Regions from separate parts of the Homo sapiens genome. Here region 2 is linked to region 1. Evidence: fine-mapped expression QTL. Tissue or cell type: whole blood. Region 1 holds a variant in brackets; the other region holds the start of a gene. All regions are shown on one strand. Distances are from middle to middle.

What was found. PIP is the estimated chance that this variant, and not a neighbour inherited with it, causes the effect.
Region 2: it holds the start of RERE, and the variant in region 1 is fine-mapped to the expression of RERE in whole blood (INTERVAL, PIP 0.91).

Annotation. Positions count from the first base shown.
Region 1 is chr1:8,356,070-8,364,172 of GRCh38, forward strand. It overlaps RERE (arginine-glutamic acid dipeptide repeats), which reads right to left. Exons shown (of 23, transcript NM_001042681.2): 15 at 7,987-8,103; 16 at 6,614-6,775; 17 at 5,694-5,807; 18 at 4,043-5,421; 19 at 3,695-3,917; 20 at 2,127-2,847; 21 at 31-177. Among named protein-coding and RNA genes, the nearest start is that of SLC45A1, 42 kb to the left of the region's middle. RefSeq lists enhancers at 3,168-3,669, 3,670-4,169. The variant C/T (reference allele first, on the strand shown) is at 4,963.
Region 2 is chr1:8,812,847-8,820,944 of GRCh38, forward strand. RERE (arginine-glutamic acid dipeptide repeats) reads right to left here and starts at 4,794. Exons shown (of 23, transcript NM_001042681.2): 1 at 4,314-4,794. RefSeq lists silencers at 1,204-1,498, 4,392-4,451, 4,702-5,001, 5,102-5,331 and an enhancer at 4,744-5,038.

The DNA of each region.
Region 1 (8,103 bases):
TCCCCGCCCCTCCTGGAGGGGAAGTCTTACCGAAAACTGGGTGGCGAAGCATCTCGTGCTCGTGTGGGGGCTGTCCAAGCAGAGGGTTGGGGAGAGTGCCAGGCGGGTAGGGGAAGCGAGCCAGGTGGGGACCGGCAGTCAGGGGGTCGACCAGCGGGTGAACGGGGCCTGCTGAACCTAAGGAAAGGACAAAACGCCAGATGGAGGCGGTGTGCAGCTCTTCAATGTTTGTCCCCCTTGGCTGGAATGACCGATGACTTCCTCCTCACCCAGGATGGCTCCTGGTCACCAGGGCTGGATGCACCACCTGGCTACAGGTGGCCCTGCCCCAAAGTGGCTGCCTCCACCTTCAGCAAGAGCTCCAGAGGCCGAGAGAAGTGACGAGCCCACCGCTGATGCAGGCACTCCCTCGTCCGCTTGTGGAGTGCCCCTAACAGGCAATCCCAGGCCAGTTTTGTCGAGGACCCGGGATCAGCAGGGTCCCTCTCGCCGGCCACCTGGGCCTGCCCTCTGCCTGTCAGGTCACAGGAACACACAGCCTTGCGCCAGTGGGTGTTGGGCTGGCACCCCCTGCCCAGGGCTGTCTCCCTGCTCTTCACTCGCAGAACCTAAAGGAGGCCAGCAGAGTGGGTGGCGCAGAATGGGGACCTGGCACAGCACTGCCCTCTCCTCTCTGCTGGCACAAATCTTGCGTCTCTCCCTTCAGAACGTTGCCTTGATCTGACCTCACTGCACCACCTCCTGCCCTCACCTCCTATCTCCCAGCTCCAGCCAACACAGGCGCTGGCAGGGATTTCAGGGTTGCCACCTCCAGCCATGCTGCCCTGGGGTCCCTGGAAGATTGGGAGCCCCCGCTCTGCCTCTGTGGCTGCTCTTGCCCCGATTTCCCACAGCTTGCCCTTTCATCTCCTCCATGTTTCTGCTACCTCCTCAGCGGACCTCTCCTGACGGCCTTCTCGAAACCGCCATACTGCCCCTGCGCCCAGCTCTCCTGATCCCCTCTTCTGGATTTATTTTTTTCCAGAACATATACTTTCTGCCTCTCACAACGTGGCACACGTCTTTCAACTATCTCCCCAAACTGGAAGGTAAATGTGGACAGGGGTTCTGCCAGCACCTACAACTGTGCCTGGCACATTCCAGGGGTTCAGTAAACACTTGCTGAATGAATGATGCATGAATGAACAAATGACTACCTGTCCTCAACACTGCTCATACTGAGGCTTGTAAGGTCTACACCAGGTGCCAACAGAGCTTCAGATATGAGGACGGCAATGGTGAGTGCTCTCCCATGTCAGGACTGGGTACAGGGGCAGGGGAGGCGCCTGGTGCCTCCAAGCAAGGTGGCTCCCCGCCCTCCCTCTGGGCCCTGCTCTATCAGTCATCCTGCCCCACACTGGAGGGTGGCCAGTGAGGAAGCCCTGCACGTAGGCTGTCCCACAGGACCTGTACTCCAAGTCCCATGGAGCAGGTGAACCTGCCTCCTCGTAAGCACAGTAGCCACCCCCTGCGCCATCTCACCAGGCTGCAGAGGGAGTGAGGATGCCAGCTGGGCCTGCCTCTGCCTCAGAGCAGCCTCTCCACAGCTGGTCAATGAGTGGCCTTAAGGAGCTCCTACTTCCAGGGTGGACAGGACTGAGCAGCCCTGGCCAGGTGGGTCAGCTCGGAAAACTCAGCCAAAGCCAGCAGGAGGCCTGCCCAGCCTCGCTCCTCAAGGGAAGAGGACTGTGCTTTTCATTCTCCCTCAGCCACCCTTGAGTAGCCCAGTGCCTTATCTGTACGTTCCTTGGCTCCAAAGGCCACATGACACTGCTCTGCTGCCCTTACCCTGCCCTGTGGGCCTAGGCCACTTCCCTCCATCCCAGGCACAGGGCCAAGAACCCAGGCTTCACCCGTGTGCTGCAGCTGTCTGAGGCCTTGCAGTTCTGGAGAGCTGCGGGGCCGAGGAGAGACTGCGATACAGCAAAACCATGACGGTAGTGGATGCTGAGCTCTTCTAAGATCTGCCAGGGATGAGGGATCTGTTCAGAAAAGAACAGTTTCCGCTCCTGGATGGTGACTGTCACTCATCAGGCTCTGCACCCCTCCCCGTGCCTCTGTCCCACCTGCCACGCTGGGGCACGCACCTTGGTGGAGGGGGTCCTGCTGGTGGAGGTGGAGGTGGGAGTGAATGTGAGAGTGCTGGTGATGGTGCGGAGTCACGTTGAACATCTGCAGTCGGGCCAGGGGATCGCTGGTCAGCGATGCCATGCGCTCTGCGTGGATACGCTCGGCTGCCAGTCTGTCAGGGTAGCTCATCTCGGGCCGCAGCTGGGGGCCCGCCAGGGCCAGTCTCTCCCTCTCCAAGGGGTTCAGGCCCGGGTGGAAAGAAGCAAAAGGGTGGGGCCCGGCGGTCGGGGGGATGGTGAGGGCGCTGTGCCGGGCAAAGTGCTCCATGGGGTTGGCGGCTGGGTGCAGGGGGTCCAGCTCTGGGGGCTTCACCTCGAAGCCCGGCTTCATCCTCTCCCGCAGCTCCCGCTCTCGGATCTCCCGCTCTCGGATCTCCCGCTCCCGGAGCTCCCGCTCGCGGATGGTGGGGTCGACGTTGTAGAGGCCAGGCATGTGGTAGGCCAGCAGGGGGTCCGTGGGGTTAAGGGGCATGTAGAAGGGGTGGTTGCGGTTGGTGGGCGACATGACGTGGGGCCGGGCGTACTCGCTCAGAGTCCGAAGGGCAGGTGTGTCGGGCCCGATGTAGGGGGGCACAGCAGCAATGGTGGTTGGTGGTGGCTCGAAGGATGGCCGCATGTGGCCAGGACCACTGAGCTGTGGGTCACTGAGGCGACCTTCATGCGCTGAGCTGGACGCCTTCTGCAGAAGGAAAAGAAAGCGTGAGGGGTCCCCCGAGCGCCTGGGGTCTCCGCTTGGTCCACACTGCGGAGGTGGGCCTGGTCCTGCTCCTGGCCTGCTCTGACAGGCCAACCTGGTCCCTCCACGGAGACCCGGCCCTGCCTTGGCCTGACACCAGGATGCAGTCCAGGCCCCACAGGGTCGGGCTCACCTGTGCCCGCAGCTCCCCTCAGGCCCAGATGGGAATGTGTCCCTGTGAGACTAAGCTCATGCATGGGTTGTCTACGTGTGAGGGTTGTGTCTGGGAGTGACAGCTGGGGGGCATGGGTGAGTGAGCCCAGCAGGCCAGGAACCTCACTGGCAGTCCCTCATGCCACTTCCTGGGTTGGCTGCCCTTTCCTCCCCGCGACAGCAGAGAGCTGGCCACCACCACAGCACCCAGCCCACGAGGGGGCCACAAAGGCAGGGCAGCTGGAGAGGCCCCTCGCAGCCTGCTTATCGCCTGAGTGCTCAGGTCTTCTCTCAAGGCGCCCCCTTGTGCTTCTCCCCGACTCCTTCAAATTACTTAGAAGTTATGAACCCAAAGGCTGCAGGAGAAGGACAGGCCCTTTCCTCGAAGGCCCTCCGGTAGGAGGACGCACAGTCACTGCTGGGAGTCAGCCTAGACCTGCCATGCGCAGTTACCCCGGCAGCTTCGGATGTGCAGCACCCGTCAGAGGTGTGGAGACAGGGTGTAAATAGCACCCAACCCTCTAGCTGCCAGGAGGCCGAGTCAGGCAGCCAAGGGCAGAGCTCGGTGGCCCAGCGTGGCTCCCAGGCGCAGGATGGACCAGCGCCCCCCGTCACACCTCGCCAACCCTGGACTCACAGCCGCCCGCTCTGCCTCGCGCTCCCGCTCTCGCTCCCGCTCCCGCTCCTTCTCCTTCTCCTTCTCCCGCTCTCGCTCCTCTCGGGCTTTCTGCTCAGCCTCGCGCTTGGCCTTCTCAATGGCCTCCTCCCTCTTCTTGGCCAGCTTGGACCCGGCCAGAGGCATGAAGTACAGGTCTGTCCGGGCACACGAGTTGTAGCCCCGGTCCAGGTGTTTGTAGAACCTGAGAAAAGCCACAGATCTTGCTGGGAGCTCCTGCCGAGACCCACCCCGGCCCTCCCTCCCACCAGAACTTGCCCCCACCAGCCCACCTGTGCCTGACCCGTCCTGGAGCCCTAGGAAGCGTACCTAGCTGACTGGCTGGCGTGACTGGGGGTGTCCACCACAGTGGGCTCCGGGGACGGGCTCCTTGGTGGGGGAGGGGGGCTCTCAGGCTCCTCAGCGTCGTCCAGAGCCTCCTCCTTGATCTGGACGGTGGGGAGTGGGCAGGACGACCCCCCCGCTATGCTGCCTCCTGAAGCCGCCGCACCAGAGCAGGGTGGCTGGGCCGAGGTGCCAGGTCCCGCCGGTGGGGTAGAGGTGGAGGGGCAGGTCGGAGGGGTGATGGGAGGAGGGCCTCCAGGGACAAAGGGGTGCTGAGCAAACGGGGGTTGGGGGGCCACCTGGTGGAGGCCTGTAGGGGGGTGGGAGGCAGGGGGCGGGGGCAGGTTCTGGCTCTGGGTCAGCCCGGGGGGCTGGGCGGGCGAGGAGGGCAATGGCTGGCTCTGAGGCATGAGTTGCAGGGGTGGGGGGTGAGCCGACGGGGGGTGATGTGTGGACAGGGAGCTCAGGGGCTTCAGGGCTGGAGGGGGAGGCAGGTTGGCATTCATGGAGAAGGGTGAGGGCCCCGAGAGGTGGGGAGGGTGCTTGTGGGCCTGTGGCGCCGGCAGCTGGGGGATGGGAGTGGTAGGCGGGGGCTTGATGTGGGGCATGGCCAAGGGCGCTGGTGGCAGGGGCTGCTCCCGTGGAGGCTGTTGGGACTGCAGCGCTGACTGAGAGGCTGGCAGCTGCAGGGAGGTGTGAGGGTACGCTGCTGCTGGGGAGGTCCCCAGAGGGGCCTGGCCTTGGGAGGCCTGGGGAGGGAGGCCAAAGGGCTGTGGGGGGCCTGGGTGCTGCAGCAGGGGCCCAGCCTGCAGGCTGTGAGGGCCGGGTGGGCCCTGACCGTGCAGTGGGGGCTGGGCATGAGAGGGTGCAGAAGGCTGGCCCGCCGACCCAGTCAGAGGCTGCAG[C/T]GGGGGATGTGGCGAGGGATGCGGCGGGGGATGCGGTGAGGGCGGCCGCTGGGGGTGCAAGGCCGGTGCCTGTTGGATGTGGGTGTGGGGAACAGGCGCTGTGGGAGCCTGTGGCTGGTTAGGGGCCTGGGAGGCCGTGGGGGAGCCCTGTGGGGGAACTGCAGTGGCAGAGGGCGTGGGCCCTGGCGTGGGCAGCTGAGGGGTCCCTGGAGGAGCTGAGGAGGGAGCTGGGGTGACCCCAGTGGGAGCCTGCAAGGCTGGGGGCTGGGCCTGCAGCATCTGCTGCTGGGCTGACGAGTCCGAGTCACTCTCATTGTCCTGGGGGCTGGGGATGCTCGGGGACGTGCTGCGATTGTCCTGGTCGATGTCTTTGGGGTCACTGCTACCCTCATCGTTGACGCTGCGACTGTCTGAACTCTCTCCCTCACCTTCAGATGGCGAGTTGGGCCTGCTGATCTCCTGGAGTCAGAGAAGGGAAGGATGGAAGTCCCAGGAGGGCAGAGCCCTGTCTGCTCTGCACCACCAGTGCCGGACACACAGTAATGTTTGTGCAGATGAAGCAGCAAGCTTGGCTCCGGGACCACAGGTCGTGCCCTGACCCAGCCAGTGTCAAAGGCCACTCCAGCCCCACCCTAGGAGACAGGGCACGGCCACCAACTAGGGAGAACCCCGGCTGGGGGCTTCTGAAGAAGCATTAGCTTTACTCAGCAAGGCTCAGCAGCAAACCTCACCTGCGTTTTTGTCTTCTTGGAGCTGGTCCTGTCAGCCTCCTCCGTATCAGAGGCCACCTTCTCCCGCTGGCGTTTGTTACTCTTAAGAGGGGAAGAGGCTTCCTCCTTCACCTTCTGCAGGGGAAAAGCCCACAAGGAGCAATCAGGCCAAGGGAGACCATCCCATCAGCCTCAGCAAGGAAATGACGGTTTGCAGACACTTTGCTCCCTCATTCTGAGTTCCATCTCCAGGAGCAAAAAGCTCTAGAAGGGTCAACTGGGGCCAAGAAGGAACACGTATCTGGGGGTGGGAATGAGAGCCAGCCCTCTGCACCTGTGGGTTTGCATCCTCAGATTCAAGCAACCATGGACTGAAAATGTAGGCAGGACTGTGATGGTTACATCTATACTGAACGTGCACACAATGTTTTCTTGTCATTATCTCCTGAACTAGACAGTGGAACCACTGTTTAAACTGCATTTACATTGCACTGGGCAGTAGAAGTAACCTAGGGATGATTTAGAGTCTACAGGAGGATGTGACTGGTCACATGCAAACCATGTGTCGATGTATATGAGATTTGAGCACCTGTGGATTTTGGTATCCTGGGCGGTGGAGGCTCTGGAGCCAATCTCTAATGGATACCAAGGGAGGACTGTACTTGGCTCTGGAGGGAGCCGTTCTAACCACTCCCCACACTTTCTGAGAACTTGGGAAGCTTGAGGCAGAGGTGGCCCCCAAGAGTTGGTGCTCGAGCCCCCTTCTCTAGGCCCCCAGCCTTCGGTCTGCAGCCCCTAGGCCAGGACAATGCTGGTGTCCAGACAGGCTCCATGAATGAGCTGCATCCTCGTGTCTGAGGGAGCTGATCACGAATACCAGCAAACCAGTTTTAATGTGAGGGAGGGACAGAGTAGGCCCTACTATCCCCCCAGCACCTGACCTTGGCCGACTTCTTCACTGTCTCTGCTTTACTGTCATTGCTGGAGGTACTGGCAGCGCTGGGGGAGTTCCGGCCGCTGGAGCGGATGTCTTCATTGATGGGTGAGGTGCGACCATCAGGGCTGGCTGGCTGCTTCTTCCGACCACTGCGTAGTGTCGACATCTGCCCACCCAAACCGAAGACTGGTGACACCAGATTCCCAGTCCCCATGTGGACCCACCTGAGCCCAACCCACAGGCAGAAGCCTGAAGGCACACCCTATCAGCCTCTCAGCAAATCCCAGACCTTGGCAAACAACAGGCCGCCCTGCCTGTCCCTGGCTGCATGAAGGTCGGTGTGGAGCTCAGGGAAGAGGTGGGGAAATCAGTGGGCTCACGCCAGAGGGCGGTTCTCAAACCTAAAGCACTCATCCCAAGGGACTGTCCTGAACAACGTGTGCTGGAAATGAACCACACTTTCTGAGCGGCAGAAAGTCGCCTGGGGCCATCTTTAAAGCACCCTACACCCTTTCTGTTTATTCCTCATAACCGTCCATTCTCCCAACCAAACCAAATGAAATCAAACACTTGTGGATTTAATCTGACAGGACAGGAAGTGACCCAAAGAGATGAAGCTGTCAAGTAAAGCAGCTCAGCTCCCCAAGCCGCCAAGCGCTTCAGCATGTTTCTGCAAAGCCATGAGGGCTCAGAAGAGATCAGGAGACAATGGTTCTGGCTGGTTGACCTGCTCCCTTCTGAGTGAGCGGGGGCCGGGCTGCCAGCAGCCTCAACGGCATACAAGGGGCAGAGGAAAGTGGATGGTCCCACCCACCTGCCAGAAGGGGCCATAAGGGAGGCTGAAGGGAAAGACCCTGTCAGTACCCTCAGCCCCAAACCTGGAAAAAGCCTCTCCCAAAGTCCCTGGCACATTTCCAACCTAGGAAACAAAGTCTCTTTATGGGAGGAGCTATGCAGTGAGCAGAAAAATGTATCGGAAGTTTCCAAAACGGGATCAAACATTTAAAAAAAATCACAAACACACTAACACAAAAGAGCCTGCAAGTTTAAAATAGCAGAGATTTGATACAATGGAAGTGACACCACAAGCAGCAGCCTTGGAGAGCAAGAGGGGCCTTGGAGAGCCTGCACTGAGCCAGAAGCTAAGAGCTTGCTACAAAACCCAGAGCAGGATGCCACCCTGGGGCCCCTCGAAGGAGAGAACAGAGAACTCTTCCCAGCCCACAGGCAAGCTACCGCCTCGGGCAAAGCAGCTCCCCTCCAGGACTTTGTCTGGTAAACAAGACTTTCGCTTCCTCCCCCTGGGAGGCTCAAGCCCCCACACATCCCAGGAAACTGAAGAAGTTGCCAGGAGCCCCATGGCCCCAGGGGACTCACCGAGCCCCGACTCCGCCGTGTCCTCATGCTATGCTTCCCACTGAGCCCATCATCCTCTTCCTTGACGGGTTTGAACATAAACGGTGGCGGGTCCACGGGCTTCTCAATGGGCGGGAG
Region 2 (8,098 bases), 460 kb after region 1:
GAACTTGAGTTGTGTTCAAATGTTCATTAAATTGGCCTATGCAATCTTAACAATGTTCTAACACATATTTAAAATGCTCATTTCTCCTCCATTATTTAAAAAAAAAACACACACACACACAAACTATAACTCTGTTAGACAAGAAACCAAACATAAGCCAAAAGGCTCGGCAAAATCACACTTAAATAGGACAAGGAGAGCTTCAACTTCAGAATAATTATCAGGATACCAATCACACAAATATGATTCAACAATCACTTAAATATCATTCAAGAGGAATTCCTGGTAGTAAAAAAAGAAATCCCGTAATTAACTAGAGCACAGCATTATCAGAAACTGATTATGTAAAACAATAGCTTTTCTTTCAGGATGTGTGTATGTGTGTGTAACGAAGTTCACAGCTAGGTTACACTAATGACTCACTTAAACATTTGAATTTTCTGCTATCTTAACCTTTAAATCGACTGCAAAAGTAGCTGCCAAAAGTAGCTTAGTAGGAAAGCATACTACTCTCAAAAGAACTTGGTATGTCCAACTTATTTTACTACTTAAATTTTTTTTGATCACTGATATTTGAAACTAATTTTTAAGTAATGAATGCTTACTAAATCCATGATAATATTCAGCATATACAGGTTTTTAGAAGGGCACAGATTATATTCTTATATGTGTGTTTTTACAGCACCTGGAACATTTCTGTTCAGTATCTGTTCAGTATTACACATAATTATTGCAGGACCTGACAGTGTTTACTATCCTATTTTTTCCTTTTTTTTTTTTTTTTTTTAGACAGAGTCTCGCTGTGTCACCCAGGATGGAGTACAGTGGTGCCAATCTCAGCTCCCTGCAACCTCTGCCTCTGAGTTCAAGCAATTATCGTGCCTCAGCCCCCCAAGTAGCTGGGATTACAGCCACGCGCCAAAGTGCCAGGCTAATTTTTGTATTTTTAGTAGAGACGAGGTTTCACCATGTTGGCCAGGCTGGTCTCGAACTCCTGACCTCAAGTGGTCCACTCGCCTTGGCCTCCCAAAGTGCTGGGATTACAGGCGTGAGCCACCGCACTAGGCCTTACTGTCCTATTTTTTAAAAGCTTTTTCGACTGACCAGTAAATCAAAGTTGAAAAGGTAACTGGTACATTTTATTTCTTGATTTGGATTACCTTTTTGTTGTGAATTGGTTCTCAGTTCTAGTTTCCTTGTGACAAAACACTGATGGAGAATATATTGAACTGAAATCCCCTGAATCCATTCCCACTGAGAAAATAATACATTTGAACTGTTCACATTTCATTGTAAAAGATACACAACTTTAGAGATTACTCTTGAAGTTTTGAAAGTAAAGTGAATCAGAAGTCACATTCCTAGAAGCAGTCAGTCTGGAACAGATGTTTATCCTACACACCCAGTCCCCTTTACCACTGCAAACCTCTCTAATAGTTCATTACATTAGAACAACTGAGATGGGCCAGGATTTGTGAAAATAAAAATCCTTTGAGACATTTATTAAGCAGATTATCTCTGAAACTGCACCTTAGTTTACAAGCCTTTGGGCAACAATTTGACCCTCTTCTATGATAATTTGTGTACACACTCATTTCACATTTTCTCTGGCTTCCAATTTTAAATTCTTTATCTAATCCATACAATAAGTCACCCTATCAGACTTTATAAGACTACTGAAAACAACACTACTGCAATGCAAGGCCACTACATTTGCAAAATTGCCGATTTTAGTGAGATTTCCCTCCTTCAACTCCTCCTCTACCCCTCTACCTGGTTTAAATCCCAAGAAAAACCTCTGTCCAGTGCTACAATTTTACTTTCCATAGAGTAGGTTTATTTGATTTTTTATTAATGATACTAAAAACTTTTTTAAAAGACTGCTGGTGTATATAGTTTCCAATACTGGGAACAGAAATAAACCCTCTGGTTTAATATTTCAAGAGAAATTATCTCATAAAAGATGAGAAGGTATCATTCAAAGGAGTCCTGGGAAGTCACAAAGTGTAAATACTTCTGGTAACAGAACAAATTAATGTCGAAGCACAACCAGTAACATAATAATGCCTCAATGCAACCGTGCCTGTCAAAGGACATCTGTATTAGCAGCTCGGGGAAGTGGCATTTGCAGAAAGGCACAACAACTGCGCTTAAAAGAAAATCATTAAGCCTCAGCCATTAATCCCCTCCCCCATCCTCTTCGTCTGGATCTTTCCAAACAATTAACCAGTAGAAGGTGCTATTCTGCAACCCACATGTATTCACACCAACCTCCATCCTTGGGCCACAGCTGGGTTTATCCCAGGTGGACTAGCCTATTCCCTGTCCAGTATTCAAAGGAGCCCCCTAAACAGAAAACCAGATCTTTTCTTATAACCCTTATTTACAAAAACAACATTGACAGCTCAATTGCCAGCAAACCTGACCATCAAACCATCACACCACTAAAAACATGCAAACATCATCTTGCTAAATATTAACCTCAATACAACCTTTATAATATTAATCAATAAAATCTATTTCTATCTAGAAAGACTCTGCTCACATTCACTACTAAGACTCAAGTGAACAAATCACTGTCCCCAACAAAATCAGGGTCAATGAGAAATACAAAAGCAATGAGAGCTGAACGTAAGGCCACAACATATAAAGAGGGATTTTATCTTTACATATACAAAAAAGAAAGAGCAGCAGAAACCACGGCTGCAAAAGGAATAAAGGGAGGCAGAGAGAAGAGAAGTCTCTGAACATGTTTTTGAGTGTCCTTTAGTTTCCAATGCACTCTTCTGCCTCACAAGGTTGCAAAAACGGCCAGGCATGAGATGGGTGGAAGAAAGCTGTAACAGAAAAGCACCCTCCCTTCCCCCATCTTCTCTCTTCTCTCCCAAAAAGAGCTGTGTTTGTCTGTGCAAACCTAGTCCCAAATATGGGAGAGAGAGAATGAATGTGTGTATGGAAGAACAATGAGCCCTCAGCTTGGTATTGTGTGTGTGTGTATGTGTGTGTGTGTGTGTGTATATGTGTGTCTGTCTGCCTCTGCCTCTTTTCCCTTCGACCTCAACAACAACAGGGAGAGCTGGAAGCCAGCTTTCCACCCATCCCAGGCCATCAAAATCAAAACTGGTTGATAATTTACAGTAGTATTAACTCAGCAAGCAAATCCATGGAACAAAATATCAACCCAAAGATGATTTTATTATTGTACAGATCCAGCTTCTCTCCCCTCCCCCAACAGACTGAGACTAAAAAGACCAGTGTACACTAGACAAAAAGGTCTCTCTTTAAATGGAAAGCAATTATGAAAACTGTTTCAAATCTTAGATGCATCAATTCCTGCTATATTAAAATGTCTATTTTGTAATTCACCAAGTTCACCCTCTTACTAGTTATCTTTTTTTGCGTTTAAAAATTCGCTGTGAAGAAGGCTATTTCACGATTCATACAAAACTACTTTCTAAATGTACCTTAAAAAAGCAACAGATACTGAAACATTTAAAGCACCCAGTTTCTCAAGGACCCATTTTACTTAAATCAATGTTTGAAGTCTGTAATCCAGAAAAATTGTAAGCAAACCTTGGAAAAGAGACAGAGGAAAATGACAATTCAACAATGAATCATTCTGTTTTCCTTTCAACAACTTCTCAAGCAACCAGTTTCAAAGGAAGCCTGCAACACTTTTCCCCCCTCCTAGCAGACACACATACACACGTGTATGTAAAACTACGAATCTTTCCATCATCTTAAAAATTAGTAATAAATAGAAGCCACCCTCCTTCAGAGAGCAGAACTAAAACAGGATAGTAAGAATTCTATTCTGCTGCAAGTGACTTTGGGTTTCATAATTTTCTAATCACATACAGCTGAGAACTAGAGATTGGGAGCACAAAGAGGAAATCTTCCCCCAATGAGAAAATGATACTTTAATAATAAAGTCCTCCCCCCAGCACCCCGAAATCCACAAACATTCAAGAAATTTACAGTTTCAGTCCTTGACTTCCTTCCCTTCCAGTTTCAGCCAATAATGTAGTCACATGAAATAGTTTAACCTCAAACAAGTAGAACAAGAGCATGAATAAGAGGCCAAGAGAGAGCAGGGGTCAGAAGGCACGCAGGAACGGTCACCTGGCCCGGACAGGACCAAAGAAGTGCCCTGCCCTCGCCCGACTCCCCTCGACTTCGGCTTCGACCCCAGCCTTTTCTTCCTGCCTCCCCCCGGGCGAGTGACTGCTTTCACGGCCGACCCTCTCTGACCACCAGGACGAGGGGCCAAAAAAGAAAGCACACGACCCGGCGCGGGCAAGTTGGACACTTACCTTCCCCTAAAGCGCTACACCATCAATAGTGAGGTGTTCGCGGCCCAGCTCCGGGGAAAGTGGCGGGGATGGGGCGGGAGGCCGCGCGGAGGCTGCGGGGCCGCGGGGCGCAGGGCCGAGAGGGGCGGCCCGCGGGGAGGCGACGCGGAGGGGCTGAGGGGGCTTCCCTGCCGTGACCTTTCCTGCGACTTGAACCTAGGCTCCCTCCTCCTCGGTCGGGCAGATCTTTCAGAAGCAGGAGCCCAGGATCATGTCTGGTTTTGTTTTCCGAGGGCGAGGGGGCTCCCTGAGGATGATGGTGATTTTTTTTTTTTTTTAATCCTCAACTAGGAGAGAAAATGAGGCAGAGACAATGTGGGGAGCGAGAGAGGGGAAAAGGACGGGGGAGGAGGCGGGGACCGAGGCCCAGCGGGGCGAGCGTCTCGGGGTGTGCGGGAGGCTGAGGAGGCTCCGGAGCGCGGAGGGTTGCTCGCGAGCGTCTGTGGGAACAGCGGCACCTCCGCGATGGTGGCGGAGCCGCGGCGGAGCTGCTGCACCGACCCGCCGCCCACTCCCCGCTCGGGCCCGGCCCACCTCGCAGTATCGCGCCCCTCCATTGGTACAGCGCGGTGTGACGCGGCCGGGGGCCCGGCCAATGGGAGGCGGAGGAGGCGGGATCTCTTTTTCCTTTTTTTTTTTTTTTTTTTTTTTTTTTTAATCTTTTTAATAAAATGAGCAGAGAAGAAGGCGGAGAGAGGCCGAGCCTTGACAACGCCGCGGCCCGGGGCTCGAGGGCTCGCGCTGCAGGCGGCGGCCAGAGGCGGTGGGCTGGGCTCCCGCCGCGGGCGCGTCTTTGTGAGAGTGCGAGGCCGGCCCTCCTCCGCCGCCCGCCGCGCTCCAGTACCGCCCCCCGCGCCCCCCGGGCTGGGCCGGGCTGGCGGCGCGGGCAGGTCCCGGGTGGGGTGGGGGGAAGTCCGGTTGATCTTGCTGTTACCCGGGTCTTAATTGGCCTTTTCAGTCATTAGGACGCGGATCCATGTTGCTGCGGGCTACAGAGTGGGTGTAAACCATTCTCATATGGACTCTTTCGAAATTCTGATGAGCGGCTTGTAATATTTTTCAAATAGTGTACATGACAAAAGATGAATTACAGAAAGAAAAATAAAAGTGATAAGTCGCACTGCTTATTTGAAAAGAATAAAAAGTGTCATGAAGGCATAAAGGAGAGACTGTACAGGTACAGAAGGGATTTTAGAAAGAGCAGTGTACAACTCTATAAGGTACGTGTGAAAAAAAATCTAAAAAGAGGAAAAGACCAAACATCACCTCTTTTTCTTTGAAGAATGAAGTATTGTGTCCCACTTCCCGAAAGCCTGATAATCACAGGGTCTATCATGCTGTAAAGGGAGTAGGGGCAGGCCAAATGATCATATTCTAGTTCATATAATTTATGGGATTGAGGGGTTTGGAAATTTCAATTATGATTAGCAGTTTTTGAAATGCACATCATGTTTATTGAGTTCTTTCACAGAGCCTGGCACGAATCCAGGGTGAATCATCAACCTATTGTTGGTTTGTTAATATTCTGTAAATGCTTATTGGTGTCCTTATACCATACACTCTTCCCGAAGGAGTTAAGGTCCGTATAAAATAAGGGGTAGAAAACGTAGCACAAAATAATTCACTCATCTGTTTCAAAAGAAGTGATAATTTTCTCCTTGGAAAATCTATTCAGATTATAATTTCCACATTGAATTATTCATTTTTTTTTTTTTTCTGAGAGGGAGTTTCACTCTTGTTGCCCAGGCTGGAGTGCAATGGCGCGATCTCGGCTCACCGCCACCTCCGCCTCCTCAGTTCAAGCGATTCTCCTGCCTCAGCTTCCCGAGTAGCTGAGATTACAGGCATGCGCCACCACACCCAGCTAATTTTGTATTTTTAGTAGAGATGGGGTTTCTCCATGTTGGTCAGGCTGGTCTCGAACTCCTGACCTCAGGTGATCCGCCCGCCTCAGCCTCCCAAAGTGCTGGAATTACAGGCGTGAGCCACCGCACCCGGCCCACATTCAATTATTCTTTAAAGAATAATTTGGACTAACAGATACTATTGGACCATGACCCAAGAGATCTTAAAAAAAAAAAAAAAAGCCATAGATCCTTGCCATCACATTTCTGAGTAACTTTCAGCAAGAAAAATCCTCTTTGCTGGAGTTATGAAATGGGGAAACTAGTTAATATCTCTTTATATATCTGATAATGTGAGAACTGAATTTTAAAACCTAATAAATTCAATAAACTGCTTCCAACATTCTAGATATGGATAGGACTATCTGACTTCCTGTTTGGAAATGATGAGGGATAAAGTATATCAGTTAGATGGCTTCACTTTCCATCAAAATCTCTATCTACAGGAGCATTCTTTCTTTTTTTTCTTTTTTTTTTTTTTGAGACAGAGTCTCGCTCTGTTGCCCAGGCTGGAGTGCAGTGGCACGATCTCAGCTCACTGCAACCTCCACCTCCTCGGTTGAAGCGATTCTCCTGCCTCAGCCTCCTGAGTAGCTGAAATTACAGGTGTGTGCCGCCACACCCAACTAACTTTTGTAATTTTAGTAGAGATGGAGGTTCACTATGTTGCCCAGGCTGGTCTCGAAACTTACAGGAGCATTATTTCTAATAAAGATTCAGCTCTGTGGTAGACAAATGGACAATGCACTGCCATCCAGCAGGGAGGAGAGAGGCTCTCCACGTTAGGAAATAACATTTACTATGGTATTAGGGATTGGCCGTCACTTTCATTTATCCATAAAAATGTAAATTTAGAAGTCCAGAAATGCCACATAGTTACAAAGCATAATATATGGTATCAGACCACAAAATTAGCAAACTAAACCCATTTAACTGTAACAGTCCCACGAAAGAATTGTGGTCCAGCCATAAAGCCGGAGAGTACTGGACCTCCTTCCAAGGATCTGAGAAGCTGATAATGCAGTAAAATAATCTTCATCGTTAAGAACAACTATTAAACTATTGATTGAAAGCTTATGTTCCCAGTGCCCTAAGAAACATGTTACATTCTTTAGCCCACTTTTTCTCCCCATGAAGTGTATTATTATTATCTCTTTTTTTTTTTTTTTTTTTTTTTGAGACAGTTTCGATCTTGTTGCCCAGGCTGGAGTGCAATGGCGCGATCTCAGATCACCGCAACCTCTGACCCCCGGGTTTAAGCGATTTTCCTGCCTCAGCCTCCTGAGCAGCTGGGATTACAGGCATGTGCCACCATGCCCAGCTAATTTTGTATTTTTAGTAGAGACAGGGTTTTTCCATGTTGGTCAGGCTGGTCTCGAACTCCCAACCTCAGATGATCCGCCCGCCTCAGCCTCCCAAAATGCTGGGATTACAGGCGTGAGCCACTGCTCCCGGCTTATTATCTCCATTTTAAAAGTCAAGGAACTGGGGCTTACGGAAGTTAAAGAACTAGCTGAAGATTAAAGACGTAAAATACCGACTTGGATTTTTTTCCCATATTAAATTTTTAAAAGTTTCCTTATTCTCTTTTCAGCAATATTTTTAAGTGGGAATTAAGTAAATAAAGTAGTTATTGAATCTGAAAATATCAAGGACTTTTTTTAGTTATTTTATGTATCTTACTACAGGTAAGAAGTGATTTTTTTTTAAATATACAGAGATCACATCAGAGCTGTATTAAAGGAAGATGGAAAATGGGGATTATTTAATAAATGATATTGGGACAACAAGATAGCTATATGGGGAAACAAAAAACAACAACACACACCCACTAGATTCATA